3 separate regions of the Homo sapiens genome follow, and all the other regions are linked to region 2. Evidence: fine-mapped expression QTL. A gene starts in region 2. Each other region holds a variant in brackets. All regions are shown on one strand. Distances are from middle to middle. Region 1 overlaps RGS3 (regulator of G protein signaling 3). Region 2 holds the start of RGS3 (regulator of G protein signaling 3). Region 3 overlaps LOC105376223 (a long non-coding RNA gene).

Evidence for each region.
Region 1: its variant is fine-mapped to the expression of RGS3 in whole blood (INTERVAL, PIP above 0.99).
Region 3: its variant is fine-mapped to the expression of RGS3 in whole blood (INTERVAL, PIP above 0.99).

What each region holds. Positions count from the first base shown.
Region 1 is chr9:113,575,542-113,583,722 of GRCh38, reverse strand. RGS3 (regulator of G protein signaling 3) reads right to left here. Exons shown (of 23, transcript NM_001394167.1): 18 at 1-273. Among named protein-coding and RNA genes, the nearest start is that of RGS3, 120 kb to the right of the region's middle. RefSeq lists enhancers at 1,246-1,754, 1,652-1,821, 1,982-2,031, 4,513-4,602. The variant G/C (reference allele first, on the strand shown) is at 4,642.
Region 2 is chr9:113,459,723-113,467,903 of GRCh38, reverse strand. It overlaps RGS3 (regulator of G protein signaling 3), which reads right to left and starts at 4,177. Exons shown (of 23, transcript NM_001394167.1): 1 at 4,023-4,177. The coding sequence starts at 4,101. RefSeq lists enhancers at 3,365-4,319, 4,320-5,274.
Region 3 is chr9:113,678,610-113,686,790 of GRCh38, reverse strand. It overlaps LOC105376223 (a long non-coding RNA gene), which reads right to left. Exons shown (of 3, transcript XR_930254.3): 3 at 574-4,885. Among named protein-coding and RNA genes, the nearest start is that of ZNF618, 190 kb to the left of the region's middle. The variant T/AT (reference allele first, on the strand shown) is at 3,651.

The DNA of each region.
Region 1 (8,181 bases), 120 kb before region 2:
GGGTTCCTGGCATGGTGGCACATCCTTGCTGGGCGGAGCATCTGGGCCTGGAGGGGATCCTTCAGAGGTAGCTGAGTCTTTGCTGGACAGTGGTTCTTGGCTGGGAGCGGGTTCCTGCCCAGAAGGGGAGTCCTTGTTGGGTGGAAGGTCTTGTCCTGGAGGAAGCTCCTGGCCAGGAGAGGGCTCCTTGCTGGGTGGGGAATCCTCGGCACCAGGCCCCTTCCCTTCCTCCAAGGCCATCTCCCTCTTCTCATCTGCCTCCGTCTCAAACATCTGGGAAACAAAAAGAAAACAAGAACAGTTCAGAAGAGGAGGCTCCAAGATGCCAGACACCATGCATGAGCTGACATGAAATCAGGCAGTGGCCTGAACCCCGGGCCCCCAGTCTGAAAGCTGAGGTGCCAGATGGAACCCCCAAAGCCCCTTTGACTTAGCTGGGTAACAATTCTCACCCTGTCTTCTTGCTTGAACTTTCTGCTCCATCAAAAACACAGCTGGTCATTTATAGGAGAAGAGGGAGAGATAACCACTATCTATCTAGCTCCTGCTTTGGCAGGTGCCAGGCCAGCTTGACCCCACTCTCTTATGTGGCCTTCCCGACAACCCTATAAAAGAAGCATCACTGTCCCCATTTTACAGAAAAGGAAACAGGGTCAAAGTTGCCTCTGGGGATAAAGGAGAACCAGGCAGTCTCTGCTTATGGACCAGAACCAAGCCAGGGCAGTCACTGAACCCAGCCCAGGGTGTCTTCTACCTGAACTCAAGTTTAAAAAATCCTAATGAGTCATTCAAACAAGAATGTGCTCTGAACGCTTAAGTATCTTTTTGAAACTATTAAACTGGAATGAAACCGGAACTTTAAAATATTGTCCACACCTGGACTCACCAGATGTCGCAGACACACGGAACCTCCCTGAAGAATCACCCACCCAGGGATTTTTAAACTGCTTGGAGGAAGCTCAGGGATTCCTCAAAAAACACAGCATCTCCTGCCTCACACACAACCCTCGGGATCCTAGGGGGTTTTGCTGAGTTTCGACAGTAGATTTCATGTGCAAAGAGAAAAACATTTCTCTTAATGAAAGTCTGAATAGCAGCTATGTCACCAGAAGATTGGGGCCCCGAGAAAGTCAGGAGTGTCCATGGTGCCACAACCACACAGGGAGGCAGTTCTCAAGTCTGGGGTGGGCCCCTCCCAGTCAAGGACCAGGAATGCCGGAGCTGGAACTATTTATTTAGAGCCCAGGTTCTGTCTTCAAGAAGCCATAGCTGCTGAGAACTAATGAAAGGGAAAGACCTCACCCATACTCGGGAACTGAACAGATGCTTGGGAATGTGTGCACCTGCGGGCACACGCGCACACTGGCAGAAAACTTCAGGGGTAAGTACCCCCAGAACATGGGTTAAGAGCTCTCATTGTAGAAATCATTAATGTCCATTTGATGGATGAGAAAACTGAGCCCAAAGGCCGGTGACTTACCCACTATTGTACAGCTGCCCTGACAGCCAAAAGCCATGCTCGAAGCTGAGAAGTCTTTGAAGCCCTGGGGAGTCTGTAATGGTGAAGCCCCACAGCTGGGAGTCAGTGTTCAGCCATGGCTTGGGGCAGCTGCAGGCTGCTGCACACACGTGTCAGGGGTCACGCTGGCATCTGGGAGCACAGATGTGAGCGGATGTGAAAGCTCGGCACGGGTAAGAGCCACAGCCTGGGAGTGTGAAAGTGAAAGTGGAGCCCTGCAGAGCAGAGAAGGTGGCTGGGCAAGGGAGGGGAGGCCTTGGAGGACTCTAGCGTGATCTGGCCAAGGTCGGGAAGGGCACGCCTTAGGCTATGGCTCACAGGCCAAAGACAGGTGCCTGCTGATGCTGTGGCCTTCTTGCCCTGGAAATCCTGCCTGCAGCTCAGAGGTGACTCCACACAAGGGCCCTCTCAGACCTCATAGCCTCAGACTCTGAAACAACAGCGATCCGAAATCCCCACTGCATAGACAGAAAGGCTGAGGCCCAGAGAGGAGCAAGGGGCAACCTAGAATCACACAGAGGTGTCAGGTAGAGCCAGTCACCAACCTTTAGGCCTCAAGGTGTCCACGTATGAAATGGGATAACCAGCATGCCTGAGTAACAGATCAGGAGCGTATGCTGGAAAAGCTGGAAAGCTCGAAAGCTCCTACAGAAGATGGTGGTGTTGGAGTTAGTGCTTTAAAAAGCATTGATCTAGAGGGAAATTCTGAAGTTAAGGACCTCAACCAGAGGCACGTGTTTCCCACATACACCAAATTTTGCCAAACACCAGAGTCAGTGTTGGCAATTGTAATGTCAGGGCCTCCAGTCCAGAATTCTCATCTGGAAACTAAGGGCTGTGCTTCAGTCCTATCAGGCTGTTCCCAGGTGGACAGAAAGACCCTCCATTGGGTAGACAGGAAGGCTGAGGGCCCAGTCTAGACAGTGACTTAGTGACTTGCCCAAAGCCACCCTGCACAAATTAGGGGCTAGGCTGGGGCCAGAGTCCAGGCCTTCTGGCCCTGTTCTTCTCAAGCCCACTTCTGATCTCTGTCCCCATGAACAAACCAGTCCCCAGCCCATCGCCCCACCCACCAGGGAGCATTCTCCATCAGGAGAAACAAACTGCCCTGCAGCCAGCTCCCTGGGGCCCCTCAGTCCTATCACCCTACCACATGGCCAGACCTCCCCCCGACCCACCCCCTGGCCCAGCCACCTGCCTCTGATAGTCCTTGGGGAAAGACGGAAGGAAGCAGCAACCGGGTGCCCTCAGGGCCTGGCACGGAGTGGCACAGAGTGGCACTGAGTGGGGAGCGGGCCGCATTTCCCCTTTCCTGGGTGGTGAGGGTGGGGCCCAGGCCTGTCCCAGTGGTGACTGTCAGTCAGAGCCCGCCCACCCCTTGGGGAAAGTGCAGCAACAAACCCAAAACCAGAAATGCAAGTCAGCCTGCCTCTGCCAACCCTGTTCTAAATCGAGGCCAAACCAAACAAAGCCAGGAGGGGAAGTGCCACTCAGGCAGGGGTACTGCCCCCAGAGGGCACCTACCCAGAGAGATCAGCCGAGAAACTAACCAAGATGGAAGGGTTCTCAGAGGGCCCAGTGGTTATGTGCTCAGATACCCGAGCCAGGCTGATTTTGATCCCAATGGGGCCACTTTTTAGCTGTGCAACTCTGGCCAAGCCTCTCAACACCTCAGAGCCTCCGTTTCCTCATCTGGAATTGAGCCCAGTGATATCATACTGGACTCACAGGACTATTTGAGTCTCCTCACAGTGCCTGGCCCTGGAAAAGCTTTTGATACAATGGGAGCTATCAGTGGTCTTATTTTAGAGATAAGAAACCTGGGGTCCCAGAGGGTAAAGGAATTACCTAAGAATGAGAGGCTGATGCAGGATTAGAACTCATATCTCCTGCCCAGGGTCTCTCCCTGTTTCCTTGGAGCCTTACACACAAGTGTTTGGGGACCTCAGAGGGCTGTAGAAGGAGGAGGAACAGCCTGGAGTGCTGCCTGAGGCCCCGCACCTGGGTGCATCCCACATCAGCAGATGCTGGCGAACAGGGCCCAGAGCTCATGGTTCTTTCTGTGCTCCCAGGCAGGTCTGTATGAACAGGGACTGCGTGCAGGTTTGGTAAGGCCCCTGTTCTTGGGAGAGCTGGGGTGGGAAGTGGTTTGACGGGAGCTCCGGAGCAATTATAGGAAACCCGAGAAACCCAGGGGTGGGAGGGTGGCAAGTGTAGGAGAAAATTAGGGCAGGAGGGGAGGCAAAGATGAGGGGGAGGTTGCAGAACACATGGTGGGCATGGGATTTGCCCTGTGAGCAACGAAATGCCACAGGCAGAGCTGTGCTGTGTCAAAGCTGCTCTGGGGAATGTGGGCAGGATGTGTGGATGGCAGGGAGGACTGGGGCACGCATACATTCATGCATTCTCCAAGCACTGAGGTAGGTACTAGGAGGACGGCAGGGAACAAGTCAGACACAATCTCTGCCCTCAGTTAAGTAGAAAAAACAGAGGTTAGACAACTAGTTTGAAGGAGCATGGGGACTGCTCTGATAGAGGAAGTACAGGCAGCTGGGGACCCAGTGAGACAGCTGTTGCAACAGCTGAAGTAACAAGAATCCAGCCAGGGCGCCCCAGGAAGACCAGCTTGCTCACCCAGGGCCTTGGGTCTAGAGTGCTGGAAGCCACTGCCCCACCCTCCCAAGGTGGGGGTCTGTGTCTTTCCCATCCATCACTTCTTTGGCTTGGCTGGACCAGGTTAATTCTGCCCATGTCTCATCTGCTGTAAGCACACAGGAAATGAACCAGGCCCTCTAAATGGAGTCACTGTTTAGGACCTAATCAAATCCTCTCCCAAATCCAATCCAGAGCTCAGAATAGGCTAAGGAGGGATGGCAGCTATGACACCCAGAGTTCACACTCATACCAGCTTTGGCTCCTGGGCCCCAGATGCCCACCGGATGTTGGGTTGAGGGTAGTGGTGGGCTGCTGAAAGTGACTTGTCCAACATCACACAGCTACTCACTGAGCAGCCAGGTTTGCTGACCCAGGGACAACCTGCAGCTCTCACTCCGATGATTCATCACAGCCACCACGGATGCCGGGCTCTGCATCTGCCCTCGAAAACCACTTCCTGCACTGGG[G/C]GGGTGTAAACTGGGGTTTGCCTCTGTCTCAGGGTGGCCCTTAACAGCCAGGATTTTACTGACAGAGCACTGGACATGCAGCCAGAAGACCTGGACTGGAATCTTCACTCCATCATTTGCTAGCTGTGTGATCCCAAGCTACCCCACTCCAAGCTTGGTTTTCTCTGCCATGAAAGTGGGTGAGGATGCCTGCTGCTTCCTGTGCCAGAGACCTAAGGGGACCAAGTGAGAAAGGGCAGGAAGGCACTCTGTGAACTGTAAAGTCCTTTGAGAAAGGGAGAGGCTGTTAGAATTCCTGCCCTGCCTTGGACCCCCAGGCTTTCAAGATGGGCTGTTCCTTCAAGCTTGGCATGCTCTGGATCCCTAGCCTCAGGTCCCTGACTCAATGCTAGCTTCCAGGAACCTTGATGGCTCAGCTAACACTTAGCTCTCCTGGCTCAGCGTCAGCCCAGCTCCTCCAGGTCTGGCCTCTTGACCACCCAGAGGCTGACACCCCCAGTCCTTCCTCCGCCACCAGCTCAGAGACCCTCCAGGCCATACTCCTCTCCCCTCTACCTCCACTGTCTCCAACACAGCAGGTTTGGCAAAATTCAGGAGGATGGAGGCGGTACTTACATTAGGGGGAGCTCCAGATACTAACTTCACACTTACTTGCTGGGTGACCTTTGGCTTAACCTTTCTGTGCCTCAGTTTCCTTAGCCATAACATAGGATTTCTAGAATCTCCTCACAATGTTGTTAGAGGAATAAATGAGCTAATGAGTATCCAGAGCTCAGCACCATGAGGGCACCCATGAGCACTCAATAAACGATAGCCATGGTCACTCCAGCACAGCGTGGCCTTAACATCTCCCTCCCTGAATTTCACCCCTTCTCCACCCTCTCATGGGCCTGTCTGCCTGTCCATCAGGACCTGCTGCAGGGCCCCTCTCATCACAGTCCTGTCCACTCCCTTGGGAACCCACCCACTCCCCAGGCCACAATCGCTATCTGCACCATCTGGCCACTGATGACTCGCAGTCCACTCTGCCAGCCCTGACCGCTTTCCTGAGTTGAGATGCCACAGGCAAGTATTCAACAAATCCTCATGGAATAGTTCTGCATCCAGACACTGTTCTAGGCTCTGTGCATAAAGGAAGGAATAAGAAAGACATGATCCTTGTCCTTGTGGAGCCTACGAACTAGAGAGGAAGGAGGGATATTGACCAAGTCATCACTGCCATAAACACAGGATAAACAGAAACCAAGATCTGCAGTGTGAAGGAAAACCCTCGGGTGCTGTGAGAGAGTCCAGGGGAGTGTTGGGAAGGCCGCCCTGTGGAATGGCTGGAGACCGAAATCTGCTCAAGGGGCAGGGCGGGGCTCACTAGGGGAGGAAGCAGCATAGGCCAAAGCCCCGGGCCAGGAAGAGCCTTAGCATGCTGCTGACACAGAGGACAGCTGTGTGGCTGCATCCCAGGGACATGGATGGAGACCTCCTTCTGCATATCCCATCAGTACCCCCAACTCTACAAGCCCTACACTGAATGTGTGATCTCCCCGCAAGTCCATCATTCCTCCTCTAATGGTCCCTGTATCAATGAAGCCACCACCAGTTGCCCAAACCAGGGAATTGGCCATCATTTTCTCCTTTTCCTTCGTGACCACCCCCATGGTCAATCCTCAAATCCTGATCATCACTTATACAACTTCAAGGATCTTTTTACTAGGGAGGTTGGCAATAAGTAGGACAAAGTATATTGGAACTCTCTGTACTTTGCACTAATTTCTAAAGCTAATTTCTAAAAAATAAAAGTTGAGGCCAGGCACGGTGGCTCAAGCCTGTAATCCCAGCACTTTGGGAGGTCAAGACGGGTGGATCACCTCAGGTCAGGAGTTCGAGACCAGCCTGGCCAATATGGTAAAACCCTGTCTCTACTAAAAATACGAGAATTAGCCAGGCAACATGGCGCGCACCTGTAATCCCAGCTACTTGGGAGTCTGAGGCAGGAGAATTGCTTGAATCCAGGAAGCGGAGGTTGCAGTGAGCCGAGATTGCACCACTGCACTCCAGCCTGGGCAATAGAGTGAGACTCTGTCTCAAAAGTAAAAAATCAAAAAATTAAAAAGTTGATTAATCTTTTTTAAAAAGAATGTTTCTACTCTCTCCATGTCCACTGCTGCCACTTCCCTCTAGACCACTGTCATCCCCCACCAGGATGATGTGGGGCTCACAGTGGCGGTGCAGACCCCACTGGCCATTCTCTGTGCTATGTCAGGGGAGCTGCCTCCATGCAAACCTCAACTTGTCACTCCTCTGCTTAAAACGTTGCTGTGGCTGGCTCCCCAATACCTCTCAGATAAAGTCCAAATTCTGTAGCCCTGGAAGACCCTGGGCTCTGTCTCCCTGTAGCCTCACGTCTGACCACTCCCCACCTGAAGTGTTTGAATGAATAAATGAATGAAAGAACAATCGCTGGGTGCGGTGGCTCACGCCTGTAATCCCAGCACTTTGGGAGGCCAAGAAGGGCAGATCACAAGGTCAGGAGATCGAGACCATACTGGCCAACATGGTGAAACCCCGTCTCTACCAAAAATACAAAAATTAGCTGGACGTGGTGGTGGGCGCCTGTAATCCTAGCTACTCGGGAGGCTGAGGCAGGAGAATGGCTTGAACCCCAGAGGCGGAGGTTGCAGTGAGCCAAGATCACGTCACTGCACTCCAGCCTGGTGACAGAGCAAGACTCTGTCTCAAAAAAAAAAAAAGAAAGAACAATCCAGTGAACTTCACAGGACCATCTAGACTCTTAGCCTCAAAGTGCAGCCCAAGAGCCAGCAGCAGCATCACCCAGGAGCTTATATAAAATACACACTCATTTTTTTGTTTTTGTTTTTGTTTTTTTTGAGATGGAGTCTCGCTCTGTCGCCCAGGCTGGAGTGCAGTGGCGTGATCTCAGCTCATTGCAAGCTCCGCCTCCCGGGTTCACGCCATTCTCCTGCCTCAGCCCCCCAAGTAGCTGGGACTACAGGCACCTGCCACCACGCCCGGCTAATTTTTTGTATTTTTAGTAGAGACGGGGTTTCACCATGTTAGCCAGGATGGTCTCGATCTCCTGACCTCATAAAATACACATTCGTAAACCTCAATTCACACCCACTGGATCGGAACCTGCACTTTAATAGGATCCCAGGAGATTCATTTGCACATTAAAGTTTGAAAAACACCGACCTAGACTATTGGTTCTTAACGGAGAAGTACACTTTAGAATCACCTGAGGAGTATCTTAAAAATGCCTGTCTGGACCCAATCTAAGACCTACTGCATCACAGTCCCTAGGAGTAAGGCCCAGGCCTTTTTACTTCTTTCTGACTGACGAGACAATTCTGGAGAGTGGCGTCAGGTAACAGGCAAGGTGACTGTCTGTTACGTGAGGCCCAGAGAAGGGAAGTGATAAGGCCAAGGTCATACAACAGAATCAGCACTAAAATCCAGCCCAGAACCTCGCCCAGGACCAGTTCCAACACATAGAACCCTCTCTATAGTGGGGAGCCTGTGCAGAAG
Region 2 (8,181 bases):
AGTTTTTTTTACATAAGAAAAATTAGCCAGGCATGGTGGTGCACATCTGTAGTACCAGCTACTCAGGAGGCTGAAGTGGGAGGATCGCTTAAGCACAGGAGGTTGAGGCTGCATGGTCAAAGAGGAGCCATGATCATGCCACTGAACTCCAGCCTGGGCAACAAAACAAGACCCCATCCCCAAAAAAAGTTTGGGATTCAATGAACACTATCAAGAAAGTGAAAAAAACCCACAGATAGAGAGAAAATATTTGCAAATCATATATCGGTTAAGGAGCTTGCATCTAGAATATATAAAGAAATCTTACAACTCAATAATAACAAGACAAAAAGCCCAATTTTAAAATGAACAAAAGATCTGAATACATTCTTCTCCAAAGAAGATATATAAATAATGAGCACATGAAAAAATGTTCAACATCACGGGTCATCAGGAAAATGCAAATCGAAACTATAGTGAATATCAATTCACACCCACTAGGATAGCTAGAATTAAAAAGTCAGATAATAACAAGTGTTGGTAAGGAATGTGGAAAAACCAAAACCCATATACACAGCTGATGGGAACATAAAATGATACACCTACTTTGGAAAAGAGTTTGGTAGTTCCCTAAATAGTTAAACACAGAGTTACCATAGGACTCAGCAAATCTACTCCTAGGTATATACTGTGTGTATATGAAGAGAAATGAAAACATTTGTCCACACAAAAACTTGTTCACAAATGTTCATGGCAGTATTATTCATAATAGTCAAAAGGGAGAAACAGCCAAAATATTCATCACCAGATGAATAAATTTTTAAAATGTGGTATAGCCATACAATGAATACTACTCAGCCATAAAAATGAATGGAGTATGATATCTGCTACAACATGGATTAAACTTGAAAACATTATGCTAAGTGAAAGAAGTCAGTCATAAAAAAAAAAATACGATTCCATTTATATGAAATGTCCAGAACAGGCAAATCTACAGAGGGAGAGAATAGATTAGCAATTGCTTTGGGCTCGGGACAAGGGAGGACGGTACAAGCTAAAGAGCATAATGTCTCTTTTTGAGGGAATGAAAATGTTCTGAAATTGTGATAATAGTTACACATCTCTGTGAATATACTAAAAACCATTGAATTGTATGGTTTAAATGAGTGAATTGTATATATCTGAATTATATTTCAATAAAGCTGTTACAAGAAAAATCAGCAAATATCCTAATCAAAATAAAATATACAATCCTGGAGAAAAATATTATGTATACCTACAATGACTTCAAATTACATCATTTTTCACAATAAAGAAAAAAAAATCCCTCTAGAGTAGTTGGGTCCTAGCCTCAGCTTGCCTACTCCCTTCCCCTGAAGTAAGGCCACCTCCTCAGAACGCAGTGTCCTTCAATTAATGTCACTTGAACATACTCCTTTTGGGGGACAAGGGGTTGTGTTCATGTGTACACACAAATACATATATCATGCAGTACTCTCCCCGAAGGGAATTCTCATCAAAACAGTTTTGTCTCTTTATATTTCCATAGATGATTATGCTCCCTTTACATGTCTGTGCTCAGGAAACTACCAGCTAAGCAACATCTTCATCTGGTTCTACCAAGGCAAAGCTCACAGTAGAAGGCCAGGGGCTACCTACTTTGCTAAGGAAAGGCCAGTGAACTGAGAAAAACTTAGCCAAAACCTTCACAGTAAAAGTGGTCCCAATTGCTACCAAAACTGACTCTGAATCCATAGCTTCCAAACCTGGATGACAGTCTGAACGCTCTATGGCTTCTTAAGTGTTCATATTCTCAGGCTCCACCCCAGACCTATTAAACTAGAGTCTCCAGAAGAAGATTCTAGGAATCTGTGTATTTTTAACAGGCTCCCCACATGCTTCTGATATTTGGCTGGGTTTGGAAACCACTGATAGGAATCTTTGCTCATAAGCAGATCAGTGAAGATCACAGTGGATAAAGAAAATCAGCAGCCTGAAAGAGGGGCACCACGACAAATGGCACCCAGGGAAACAGAGCCAGTGCAGGAAACAGGAGAGAATTTCTCAAATGCTCTCATAAGCATCCTTAGAGAGATGTGAGAGGAGCCTGCACGAATAAGAGCAGGTGGCTTCCCACCCCACCCAGGCTCCTGTCTGCCTCCTGCACACTCAGGTCACAGTCACTTGTTCAAGCAGCAGCCTTCCCTGATACCCATCAGACTCAGCCCTGAGGCCATGGCTGGGCAGGAAGATCCACTCCCTGCTGGGCCTGAACCCTCCTCAGCTTCCCAGATCTGGCAGGCAGATTAATCTAATAGAAGAACATGGACCAATGCAAGGAAATATTCACATCAGGCCACTAAGGAAAACATATGGGTTACAAAATTGTCCATACAAACTTGATCTCAATTGTGTTGAAATTTGACCCCTAAATACACACAGGCACACACACACACACACACACACACACACACACACACACACAGAAATAGGTGTGGAAATAAGCCTGGGAGGATATAAATCAGAAAGTTAACAGTGGTCTCCCTGGGAAGTCAGATTACAAGTGATTTTCACTTTCTTCTTTTCACTAAGTTTTCAGCAGTAAACACATGTAACCATGATAATAAGGAGGAAAAAAGCAAACATATTTTTACTTTTTAATCAGGACACAGCTAAGGTAAGAGGGCCTCACAGCTCCCTGACACCCTTTCCTGATCACTCCTACCCCAGCCAATACAGATCATCCTGGAAACCACCCTTGTCTCACAGAGCCCTGCATCCCAATGGGGTTAGCAGGAATTGCCTCCTACGCTGGGGCATTAAGTGAGATAATGCAGGTAAAACACTTGGCATAAGGAATGGCAATGGTAAGTTCTCAACAAATGATGGCTAGTTAATTGCCCTTTATCGTCCACCAACTAGACCAGTGAATTCCTGCTGCCAGACGTCAGGCAATTTCAGAGGCCAAGCCACTGCTCTTCCATCATTCCCTCTACCCCTAAGGAAAAAAAGCAGGTTGTGGAAAACCAAATATGTTGAGCAGGAGTAAGCCTGAAAACAGAAGAGCCAGGAACCCCAGGGAGGGACCAAACTCCTTGGGCACTCTGTCTTTGAAAGCTGGGCAATGTCCAGTAATGTTTCAGTAACAGCCCCAACCTTTAGAAGGAAATTGTATGCAAGTTCAAACAAAAATGCGCTGGACAGGTCATCTCTGGAAAGCTTGAGCTCAGCTACGAACTCTGCCACTGGCTCATGGAAGATCTCTTGGTTTCAAGTCTTCACAGAGGAAAAATAACCCCTCTCCACAGAGAGTTGCAGGACCAGTGAGGAAATGAAGGGTTACCCTCAAGGGTAGGGTTGTTACCTTTACTATGGCTACCAGGAAGGCCAGGTTTGCCCAGACCTTTGGGCAGCTGCCGCCCAGCTGTTATTTGGGGGAACTCAGTCTGCTACTTAGGGGCTTGGGAGTGAAGCCTACTGTTCACTTCTTTCCACCTCAAACCCTGAGGCAGCCCTGGGACCCTCCTAAGGGATTGTTCTTTCTTGGAGGAGAGAATTCTCCCATCTCCACTGTGGCTCAGATACCCAACAAAGTCAAATTGCAGCCTCCCCACAAGGCAGCAGGGCCAAAGGGCCCAGCACCTGTCCGCTCCCTGAGCCAAAGGAAAGTGGGTGAATGAGATCTCCAGTTGCTATAACAAGACCTTGATTTAACCTGAGCTGCTTGCTAATGAGAAACTCCGTGGTGACAACCCAGGTCTCTGAAAGATTAACCAGAGCGTGATTATTCCAGCCAAGTGAGGCAGAACCAACCGCAGTTGGCACTCATGGCCGGGCAGCAGGTGGTGTCCAGCAGCTTGCTTGGACTGAGCCTGTGCCCTGAGCCCCTCCTGGGCAGTCACAGGAGAAAGGGGCCAGAGAAGGTGCCCCTAGATAGAAAGAGCACCTGCTCCCAGCCTCCCCTGTCACCACGAGGGGCTGCGTTTCTGGGCGCTGGGAGCAGGGTGAAGCAGCCCCTGCCGCCAGCCCCAGCGGGCACTTACCAAAGGTGGTGAGGTAGAAGGACAAGTCCGGGTGGGCACGCCGGCTCCCGAGGGAGACGCGGTGCAGGGAGCGCTCCATGGCGTCCCACTGCGACCCGGACAGGAGCGTCTGCAACCCGAGGCGGCTGTGTTGCTCCCCAGTAACCGGAGTCTCCAGGGCGGGAGGAGCGCGAGCGGGAGGTAGGGCTGCCCCAAGCGTTGGAACGGCCAGGGCGCGCCCGGCCCTGATTGGCCCGCGCGGGTTTGAATGGGGAGAGTTCCACCTGCCGGAGCAGAGCTGGGCCGGGGTGGGGGAGGCGGCGCCGCCGACCCGCGCTGAGCAGCGACGGCAGCCACCCAAGGAGCCAGCAGGACGGTGCGGCCACCCCGGGTATCCCGGCCCCAGCACCGCGCTCCCGGTTGGAAATGCCAGTCCCACGAGAAGGCCCAGTCCGGGGTGCCCACTCTGGGCAGGCTTGGCCTCCTCGTCCAGCTCTCCTAGACCAGCAATTAGTCGGGTTTATAACCTGCTTTGAAGCTCAGGCCTATAATCATTAGATCCAAGCAAAGGCAAAGGAGCACCCGATGGCCCAGGGCAGTGAGGTTTGGAAAAGTGTTCTCTGCGCTTGGACAGGTCGCCCCCCACCATGCTGCATCCTCTTCCCAAACCCTGCATCCTGGATCACTCTCTTGAGCCTCCTCTTGAACAAGTGCTGCCTGACACAGGTCCGGATGGGAGCAGCTTGCTCCAACCAACCTGATGGCCCCCCGTCCCACAGCCTGATGCCATCGGACAGCAGGACAGGCCCACAGCCTCTGAGAAAGAGGAACGCACAGGAAACGGAGTGGGGTGGGTGAATCCCCCAGCCTGGTGCGGGGAGGCAGAGCTGGAAGGTCAAACCCTGCTTTGCTGCTTTGTCAGCAAACATTTACAGGACACCTCCTCGTAGCAGTTTCACACCAAGACATCTGCTCTGCAAATCTCTGTTGCCACTGTGGGAAGGAAAGCTGTTAGTCTCGTGTAAATCTAAAAATGGGAAGTGTTGGTATTTGTCCCTGTTCCCCAGACTTCATCGCCAAGTGGATATTTGTGGTTCAGTGATCCACTCAAAAACAAGATGGGGAGATGCAAGACAGAAAGTGGAGAGAAGAGTTATGTGTTGAGTACCAGATGCCAGAGGCTGAGCTGAGCTGGGCAATTTACACACATCATCTCAGTTAATCTTCACGGTAAGTCTAATAAGTATTAGCCCCAATTTACCAGGAAGAAATCTGAACCTCAGGCAGAGAAGACAGGTGACATGCCCAAGGTTTGCAGAGCTAGGAATAGGCAGAGCTGAAATTTGAACCCAGGCCTGTCTGCCCCAAACGCCATTGTCCTATTCTTCCTTGGCCTCCACATCTGCCCCATGGCCAACAGCAGGTGGAAGGAGCAAACGCCACAGGGTCAGGTGGCCACCAGCGAGGAGCAGAAACTGCAGAAGGAGCCCTGAATCAGCAAACTGGTGATAAATCACATAAATGCCGTAGGATTGTTTGAATCCTGGCACTTCGTGAAGTCCTGCCCTGCTCTTTACTGCACCCCCCCACCCCACCCCACTCTCCCCCTCCAACCCCGGTTACACACACACATGGTGAACACTGCCTTTAACAAGAGCAGGTCCACTCTCCTAGCCTCAAGCCAGTGACAGATGGACTTACCTGCACCCTGGACTTTGGCATGCGTGATCCTCTTCCTGGCTGGAGAAGTTTGAGTCCACTCATCTCTTCTGGGCAGAGCGATATCAGGGCTTAGCCACTCCATCCAGCCAGGGAATATGGGCAAGCTCAGGCTCAAGCCACAGGATGTAGAGAGGACACTGAGCACAGAGACGTGGCAGACCTGCAGGAGCAAGATGGGAGCATGAGTTAGCCATGGCCTGAAGATGCTCCATGCAAGGTGTGTTCACTCCCAGTAGGAACTAGAAAGCATGGTGTTCAGGAAACAGCAAAGGAAGGCCCACAGGGAAAAGGGAAGGTGATGTGCCTGAGATGATAGTCACCTCTTCACAACTTCGCCAGGGACCACTGTAGAGCCTCCTCCCAAAGGGGAGACTATCTTGGGCTCCAGAGGCTGTGAGCAACCTGCAGGTACAACACTCAGGACGGTGAGATCCAGAAAGAAAATTGGGCAAAGGTGTGCTGTCTGAATGTGACCTAGGAGAGAAAAGACCGAGGCCCACACTGGGCACTTACACCCGGTAATGGGAACAAAGATTCTACTGCTTTGTAGGTCCCCTCCTGACTCCTGCCCCACTCTGCAGCTAACATATTCAGTTGGAAGATTGCAAGGCCAGCCTGATCCTGAGCTGGCCCCTCTGATGGTATCACCTTCACCACCACCAGTAAGGCTCCTTTACTCAGTAGCGTGCTGGAAGCTTCCTTTTCCTAAAAGGACAGGTCGGTCACCCTTTCCTCAAGAGATGGAGGAGAGAGGTGAGTGGGAGCTTGGGCAGGGCACTTCAGGAGAGACTGGCCCTATTAACCCACACTGCTGTCCAAAAGCAACATCCAGAAAGGCTCATGATCATGGCCCTGCTTTCCCCAAGAAGGCAGGAGAGTTGGACCAAGCCTGGCTTTCTCACATGTCCTGAGCATTCTAGCACCCCCTGGGGTTCTTCCACCTCACACATGTGCACACACACTCCACACATACATTATCATACCACACACGATAACAATCATACACTCTGCACACATACATACACATACCTCAACATATCCCATGTACACACACAGTCACATCATATGCACATATACACATACATAAACACACTACATACACACCTCACATACATATACAAACACACCCCACACATTATATATGCATCCTATGCATATATATAAGCACACATCACACTGACACATGCACACAAAACACATACACTACATATATACCATATGCATATATACAGATTGATTTGAAGCACTTAATAAAGTATCGAGCAATGATTTTAGGCATTTTTTTAAAGACTGACTATATCTGGAATAATAAGGAATACTTGAGTTTGAAAAGAAGGGACTAAATGGATTTATTTGGGTGCATTTTCACAATAACTCTCAAAGAATCTTAGTGACTTTAAGATATCATCTAGCCCAATAATAACCAAGAAAACTTAGAAAAATAATAACAAAGGGAACTTGTACTACCAGATGTTAAATGGTGTTAAATAATATAAAACTAAAAAGAAAAGACAGATCGATGGAATTAGAGTAGAAAGTTCAAGGGGATAATTTATTTAGAAAATAACAAAGATTTAAAGTGTTTTAACTAAAAATTCATTTCAAAAAGTTAGAAGAGGAATAAGCTAATTCAGAAGAAAAAAAAATTTTTTTTTTTTTGGAGACGGAGTCTCACTCTGTCACTCAGGCTGGAGTGCAGTGGCGCAATCTCGGCTCACTGAAAGCTCCACCTCCTGGGTTCACGCCATTCTCCTGCCTCAGCACCCCCCGAGTAGCTGGGACTACAGGCACCCGCCAACACGCCCGGCTAATTTTTTGTATTTTTAGTAGAGACGGGGTTTTACCTGTTAGCCAGGATGGTCTCGATCTCCTGACCTTGCGATCTGCCCATCTCAACCTCCCAAAGTGCTGGGATTACAGGCATGAGCCACTGCGCCTGGCCAGGAGAAAATTTTAAAAGGAAATAAGGTTAAAGGTGAAATTTATCCTCAAAAAAATAAACTTCAACAATAAGACCAAAGCCTTGTCTCTGAAAAGTTCAGTAAAATAGACCTCTGGCAAAATGTATACAGAAAACCAGAAATAAGCAAGTTTAGGGAAGAGAAAGCCAAGATATACAGGTGATTTTTTTTTTTTTTTTTGAGAGAGTTTCTCTCTTGTTGCCCAGGCTGGAGTGCAGTGGTGCGATCTCTGCTCACTGCAACCTCCGCCTCCCAAGGTTCAAGCAATTCTCCTGCCTCAGCCTTCCGAGTAGCTGAGATTACAGGTGTACACTACCATGCCCGGCTAATTTTTTGTATTTTTAGTAGAAAGGTGGTTTCACCATGTTAGCCAGGCTGGTCTCAAACTCCTGACCTCAGGTGATCTGCCCACCTCAGCCTCCCAAAGTGCTGGGACTACAGGTGTGAGCCACTGAGCCCGGCCTCTTTTTTTTTATTTTTTTTGAAACAGAATCTCG
Region 3 (8,181 bases), 220 kb before region 2:
CGCTGGGCCCCCCTTCCCTCAGAGCCTGTGCCTCCCCAGCCCACTGGGAGACCTGGCTTCCAGCCTCAGCCCTGCAAGACAAGTCACTGTGCCGCAGGATGCTTCATTCCCTCCTCTATATATGGGAACAGCCACAACAACCACCCCCCACTGCTTCAGGGGAGTCCAGGGCCCCAGAAGAGCCTGCAGGATCTAGCTCCTGTCTCCCTCAGTGCACTCGCCCTGTCCCTCATATCCATTGCTCCTGCCACATCCCTTCTCTGCAGGTCCCCTAATTTCCATGCTGTCTCCTGACTGCAGGTATCGAACCTGCTCATATCCTCCACCTGGAATGCCCTCCAACGCAATTGCAAATTGAAGAAAAGATGTTCAAGGACCCCTCCTAGCTGGGGGCAGAGTGGGGGCTTGTCCAAGTCTGGTCAAACCAGGTCCCAGAATTCTGTGCAACAGGAGTGCTCCATGGAGTCAGGGTGGCCTTTTTTCTCCTGGACACCCCAGTTCCAGGCCCATATGGCTGGAACTTTGGGTTCCTTTGCAAGGATGAGGACAGAAAAGAGGAAAGAGACAGGAAAATAAATAATCCATGTTTAATCTAGAATGAGAAAACACAAAAAGAACAAAAGGAAGAGAAAAATATCACCCTCCACCCTCAGCGCCCAGAGAGAAAGAGGTTGTGGTTTGGAGCCTCCCAGAGTGTTTTATGCATATATATGTGTATGGTGGGTGTATTAGTCTGTTTTCAAGCTGCTAATAAAGACATACCCGAGACCGGGTAATTTATAAAGGAAAGAGGTTCAATGGACTCACAGTTTGGCCTGGCTGGGGAGGCCTCAGGAAACTTACAATCATGGCAGAAGGGGAAGCAAACACATCCTTCTTCACCCGGCAGCAGGAAGGAAGAAAATTGAGTGCCCAGTGAAAGAGGAAGCTCCTTATGAAACCATCAGATCTCATGAGAACTAACTTATTATCACGAGAACAGGATGGGGGAAACAGCCTCCATGATTCAATCATCTCCACCTGGTCCCTCCCACAACATGTGGGGATTATGGAAACTACAAGATGAGATTTGGGTGGGGACACAGCCAAACCATATCAGTGGGTGTGACCTTCACTCCAGAAACTCTAGATACAAGAAATATCGCCGCATGACTATTTTTCTAGAATCAAAACAAAAGCTGACTCCAGCCCGTCCCACCTGGAGCCAGGCACCTATGGGATCTGCAGACCCAGACTCCCTCCTTAGTCTTGAGGAATCTCTCTCTGTCCTCACTCTCGTTTGTTGCTCAAAATGTCAATCAAATTTTGAGTTCCTAATCTTTTCTCCAAAATCCTGAGTCTTCCTTTCCTCAATAAATGGTTTCTCCAACTGCTCAGTTGCTCAAGCAAGAAATAGAGGACTCACCCTCCACTCCTCCCTCTCTTTTCTCCTTGTCCTCCTGACAGCCAAACCATCACCAAATCCTGTGTGTGAAACCCAAAGCCTATCTGCAGGCTGTCCCCTTCTCTCTATTGCAATAGTCATCTCCAATCCAGTCTCTGCCCAGCAAGCAGAGGGATCTGAGATGCAGGAAATCAATGCTGGTCCTCCTGTTCCACCGCTGTGAGATGCTTCTACTGCTGAGGAGGTATCTGAGCCTTCTGTGCCCACGTGGAACAGCCCCAGCCTCCTTTGCAGGTCACAACGCTCACTGCCTCTACTAGAGCCTCCCTTCAAACACCAGTGCTGCTGGTCATGGGGCACATGCCTGTAATAGCTTGAGACCAGGAGTTCAGGAACAGCCTTGGCAACATAGCAAGAACCGCCCTCTCTGAAAAATAATTTTTTTAAGAAAAAAAAAATAGCCAGGCACAGTGGTACATGCCTGTAGTCCCGGCTACTCAAGAGGGTGAAGTGGGAGGGTTGCTTGAACCCAGGAGTTTGAGGTAACAGTGAGCCCTGATGGCACCACTGCACTCCAGCCTGGGTGACAGAGTGGGACCCTGTCTCTAGAAAAAAATATAAAAATAAAAATAAAAATAAAAAAACACTGCTGCCTCCTCTGGTCATCACAATACCTCCATGAACACCCTTTCCCTTTCCCCCACCAATTGTTCAGATCTCAGGGGAGCTGGGGAGCTCTCACTTCCTCAGGGAAACCTCCCTGCCCACCACCCCAACCCTAGCAGCTTTGAGACCCTGGACCTTCCATCCTCCTTCCCCCCGGTTTGCCGCTTCATTCCTGCCGTGTCTGGCACTCTGCATGTGGTGTCTGAGGGCAGGGACCACAGTGGCTGTCGCTCACTGATCTATCCCCAGTGCTTCGCACAGGGCCTGGCATGTAGCAGGCCTTCAGTCTTTGCTAAATAAGTGAATAAATGAATGAATGCATTTCCAGATGACTGCGACTCACAGCTATAGCACTGTCACACCTTGACCAAGTGTCCCTTCATTCCTATTTCCCACCTCCACATTCAATCCATCAGTGAATCCCATGGACATTAACTCCAAAATATGCACCAAATTCATCCTTTCTGCTTCTACCATGCCCACTCCAACTGGTCTCCTGGCTTCTTCTCTTGTCCTCCCCCATACAGATTATTCACACAGATATAAAGGGCAGCCCCAGTCCCTTTTGAAATAGACAAAATCAGAGTCTACCATGACCCTGCCTCATCCCTTCCAGTGGGCTTCCCACTGCATTCCATCCAGCTGCTTTCTGGTGCCTTCCAGAGCCCTCCAAGGTCTTTTTCCACCCCTTCCCTGACCTGTCTCCCACCTGCACTAACCATACATTCTGCTTCAGTCACACTGGCCTTTGGAGCTTCTCAAAACATGATAAACCCATTCCTACCCCAGGGCCTTGGCACTTCCCCTTCCTCCTGCCAAAGACTCCGCCTTCATGCCCAGCAGGGGCTGTGCTCCCTGGCTCACTGAGGGACACCTGCAGTTCAGCAGGCTGGTGCATAGTAGATGCTCCATCCAGATTTGCCGAATAAGTGAAAGGACCTCTGCATGCCTCTGCATCTTGTACATCTGTTTGGAGCCGAAGTATAGACCCAGATGTGTTATTTTCCCTTGTTAATTACTGCAGAGTAATTATAGTAAGAAGTGTAAGTACAGCAAGCATTAATGGGGAAAAGAACAGATTTCATGCACTAGCTCGCAGAACATTTGAACCAGAGATGGGCCTCCCCGCAGCCTGCTAGAATTCTGGAGGGGGTAATTTGGCCCCCTGAGTCACAGCCTGAGCCCAGCCCACCCCAGTTTTTCACGGCTTCTCGGAAAACCACCTCCAAGCTGGTATCTGCCTCAATAGAAGCCGTGGTGGGGCTGGGGGAGCCTGGGCCTTTCTGGGGTTAAAAATCTTGATTCTGGCTGGGCATGGTGGCTCACGCCTGTAATCCCAGCACTTTGGGAGGCCGAGGTGGGCGGAACACGAGGTCAGGAGTTTGAGACCAGCCTGGCCAACATGGTGAAACCCCATCTCTACTAAAAATAAAAAAATTAGCTGGGCGTGGTGGTGGGCGCCTGTAATCCCAGCTACTCAGGAGGCTGAGGCAGGAGAATCGCTTGAACCCAGGAGGTGGAGGTTGCAGCGAGCTGAGATCGCCCCATTGCACTCCAGCCTGGGCAACAAGAGCAAAACTCAGTCTCAAAAAAAAAAAAA[T/AT]CTTGATTCTATGTGTTTCTGAAAAGCTGGGTGGCATCAGGCAGATGGCTGAACGTCTCTGAGCCTCTGTCTTCCTATCTGTAAAATGAGGATAATTGATATCTCCCTCCTAGGTTGTTGTGGGCCCTAAAAGTGACAACATATGCTAAGTGCCCATTGTGGGTTTCAGCCAAGTTGCCCCCCTTCCCTCCCTTCCCAGTGTGGTAGAGAAAAGACACGGTCCCTGCCTGCCCACTGCAGGCCCTCCTGTGACTCTTCCCAGAAGAAATGGGGCAAGGCTGTCTGTTCATTGATGTGCTTCCTCTATTTTGAAAAACCAGGTTGATTTCAACAAGATTGATGAAAAATGTCTTCAAGATGATTGCTTCAGGCCCAGTGTTTCAAAAAGGAGTTGCTATTGGCAAAGAGGGAGTGCCACATCTTGATGAGGGGGACTGTACAGCTTGTGCGGGGCTGTTTGCCTCTCTGCCCTCCCCAGCCACACCCACATACGGACAAACACTAAATGCCAGTTGCATCCCACTAGGCAGAGAGAACCACAAACGCCCCAGGGCTGGAAACCACCGGGAGAACTGGCCTTGGGAGGTGCAAATGACGTCGGGGAGGAGAGTCTAATGTAAACTGTAAAGTGCTGGAGAGCCAGGGTCATTGCTGATATTCCAGAACCTACTCATTGGTCATTTCCAGCTGCTGGGAAGCGGATCTTGGACTTGAGTTTTGCCTTCCGGATGACCCTGAGACGCCCTCTTGTGGGCATCAGTGGTAGTGAGTGGCAGGTTTTCCAAGTTGCTCTCTCATTTGCAAGTGGAGCCTTGCTTTTCTTTTGGTCTTTTCTTTTCCTTTCTTTCCTTTATGTTTCTTTCCTCTTCCAGTGCTCTTTTATTCAGTGCCACAATTCTTATGAAGATTATATCTCCAAATACCACTTTTCTGTTCTCCAAAGTGTTAGAAGATGAAGATCCAATCTCATATGGATCCTACCTTTAAAAAAATTAATGTATTTTTGCTTTTTGAAGATCATTGTACAAAATTTTGAAAATGCCAAAAAGCACAAGCAAGCCAGTAAAACTCGAGAGTAAGCTTTCTAACTCAACCTAGCAGGCAGCAGGAGAAAGGAATGAGGGTACAGTCTTCCTGGTTCACCAAGTGTTGATATGAGCATTTCCGCAAAACATGTTGGCGATACGAGCTCAATTCTGAGCTCGTGAAGGAGGGTGGACATCTGGGCCTAGGAACTGAATGAGACAAAGCCGTTAGTCACATAACTGAGGATTCCATCTGAGCCTGTCTCCCCACACCCCTCTTTTTCTTCCCACAGAGACCATCCCGTGCAGTTAGTGCAGGGGATGGCATGAGCTCTGGAGTGTTCCATTCATTCATCTGTTCATTCATGGATTCATTCAACAATGCTCAATGATCATCTCTTGTGGGCCAGACCTTGTGCTGGCACCTGGAGATACAAAGCCTAAAATACAGTCCCTGCTACTCAGAACTCATGGTCTAGACTGGACACAGCTAGATAAACAGGAGATTACCAAGCATGCTCTGATGAGGGATGCTCTTACGGGGGTACTATGGGGTACTGGAGGCTAATCCTGGATCCACCACTCCTCAGGTATGTGGACAAGCCACATCCTCACTCTGATCTTCAGTTTCCCCATCTGTAAAAGGGGGATAACAGGACCGGCCTCATCACATTGTGGCGGCGATTGAATGAACATGAAGTACATGCATGAAACGTGTAGCACACAGAGCAGGTACTTGCTAAATACTCCTCTCCATCCATGCTAAATTCTTTCTTCAGACTCTGGAGATCAAATCTGACCAGGATCACCTATGACAGTCAGGTTGCCTGTTGGACTTTTGGGAACATCACAAAATTTTGTATGTAGTCAATGCCAGAAAGGGTGGCCTGGAAATTATCCAGCCAAGTCTCCTTATTTTAGAGAAGAGGAAACAGGGCCCAGAGAGGAGAGGAGTTTGGCCCAAGGTCACACAGAAGATCTGGAGAGCCTCTAGGCTTGGTCATTAAGGTTCCAATCTCTGCAGGGAGAAGGGAGATTCCCTGAACTTGAATCCAAGGCTCCTCAACTTACTGGGTTGGGCAAGTTAGTTCAACTCTCCATGTCTCGGTACCTCCATCTGTAAAATGGGCATAAGAACAACTTCCTTCCTAGAGTGTGTGGGAGGATTACATCAACCAACTCCCAATTCAGTGCTCCATCTACCATACCTAGAATTCATGCAGCTCAGAATTTAGGATAGCAATTCTTCATTCTGAGTCTGTACATTTTGCATCCAGAATCCACGGGTCAGGACTTGGCTCAAGTTCTTCCCTAAGTGTAAAGGCCTCTTGGTGGAAACCTTGGGCAAGAGGAAACATGTTTCTATTCCAAGCAGCAGAGAAGTAAATTATGATCAAAGAGAGTTAAGATCAAAGCAGTGCCACCCACCTCTCCCTCAGATTAACCTTGCTTTACATCAATTCAATGAACATGGCTGGGTCACATTTTAAGAAAATAGGCTGCTTCCTGGTCACTAATAGTCAATTGCCTCTCTTGGCATGCCCAAGATGAATTATAATGGTTTAAGGTCAAACACAAAATACGAACAATTGCATCAAAACATCAGATTAAATAAAAATAAAAATAAGCAAACATCAGAATAAGTTAGCATCTGGGTGAACTCTTGGTAATGGTGGCCACCCCTCAGCCTTTCCTCTTTTCCTTCAAAAATAACTATATGCTCAGAAGCCTTTCAGGGGTCACCCAAATAGAAAAGCAGTCCCTCGAGATTGGTTGCAAACTCCAGTTTATCCATTTCTCTTTCAATATCACAATGGAAAATCACCAAGGCCACATGGAGGTCTGTAATGATTTTCTGTACACTCGTGTAAACAAAAGAACATACAATTTCCCTTCTTTCCCCAGTGGAGTGTTTTATTTTTTATTTTTCCAGTTTAGGGGAAATGTTAAGATGATTTGGGGGTTGCTGAAATGTCTAAAAATCAAAGATACAATAGTAAAGAAAGAAGCCAGTTGAAGGGGCTGTGTTTGTGGTGAAGTCAGTTGTTTTATTTCATTATAAGGTTTCTATGTTTTCAGGAAGCAAGAACAAAAGGGAAAGGAGAAGTGGAAAATTCCAGAAAATGATGGATGTGAGGCTGTCATAGAGATCGAGAGCACCCATTTCAGGCTGATAGGGCAGTCCATATGCCCAAATGATCGACTTATAGACTATTTTCTTTTTCTTTCTTTTTTTTTTTTTTCTTTGGAGACGGAGTCTCGTTCTGTTGCCCAGGCTGGAGTGCAGTGGCACGATCTTGGCTCACTGCAAGCTCCACCTCCCTGGTTCACGCCATTCTTTCCTGCCTCAGCCTCCCGAGTAGCTGGGACTACAGGCACCACCACCACGCCTGGCTAATTTTTTTTTTTTTTTTTTTTGTATTTTTAGTAGAATCGGGGTTTCACTGTGTTAGCCAGGATGGTCTCAATCTCCTGACCTTGTGATCCACCCACCTCGGCCTCCCAAAGTGCTAGGATTACAGGCGTGATCCACTGCGCCCGGCCAGACTATTTTAAAGAATAGCAGTTGCTCACAACTTGACTGTCCTGTGCTGTGGGGCAGGCCATGAGTGGCAGTAGAAAGAACGCGGCTCTCAACACAGACCAAGGAGGTCTCAGTCTGACCCTGGCCAGGGTCCTTTGCCAGGTGAGTGGCTCTGGGTAAGTGGCTTCACCTCCCTGAGCCTCGGTTTTCTTATCAGCAAAATGTGATGTTTGAAAAGCACCTAGAATAGAACCTGTGGCTTTACTGCGAACACCATCCCTCATCATTTGACTGCTGTCAACATTCTGTCACAAACGGTATTTTATTTGATAGCCCCCCAAACCTTCTGAGGTTCTTGGAACTGGAATCTTTGTTCTTACTTGACTGATCAAGAGCTTCTAGTCCCCTAAAGACAATTCACTCCTTAGTGAAGAACTTGGGTATTGGGGGAGGGGACAGTGAGACCTGGATTTCAAGTCCTAGCTCCACCAAGTGATGTCACCAACTGATGACATCGTGTAGGTGATTTCACCTCCTTTATCCTCCAGTCTCCTGCTCTGTGCTTTAACACCTCTCCCGCTGGCCTGGCCACTGCATGAGCAACACACCTGGAGATTGCAAGCTCTTTGCAGATTCCAGACACCAAACATAGTCCCCATACTGTGAACTGAGGAATGAACTGAGGGACATGAGAGCACTCAAGGATGTCCACAGAGGAAAAGAACCCCCTTCATACGTCTAATCAAGAAAGCAGACAACTTCCCCAAGCACCAAGATGTCAGCTGGACTTTTGTAAACTAGCTTTTTCCCTCACAGTCTCACTTTGCTTCCCATGTTCCAGTTTGCCTCCTTTCCCAAGGTATGGGCCCGGCTGTTCATGTCAGCAGGGATGGGCATGGGGAGAGGTCACAGAACATGGTTTATGTGGTCAAAGGTGTGGTGTCTCAGCAGGATGCCAGCCCAGGTGGCCCATGGCCAGCAT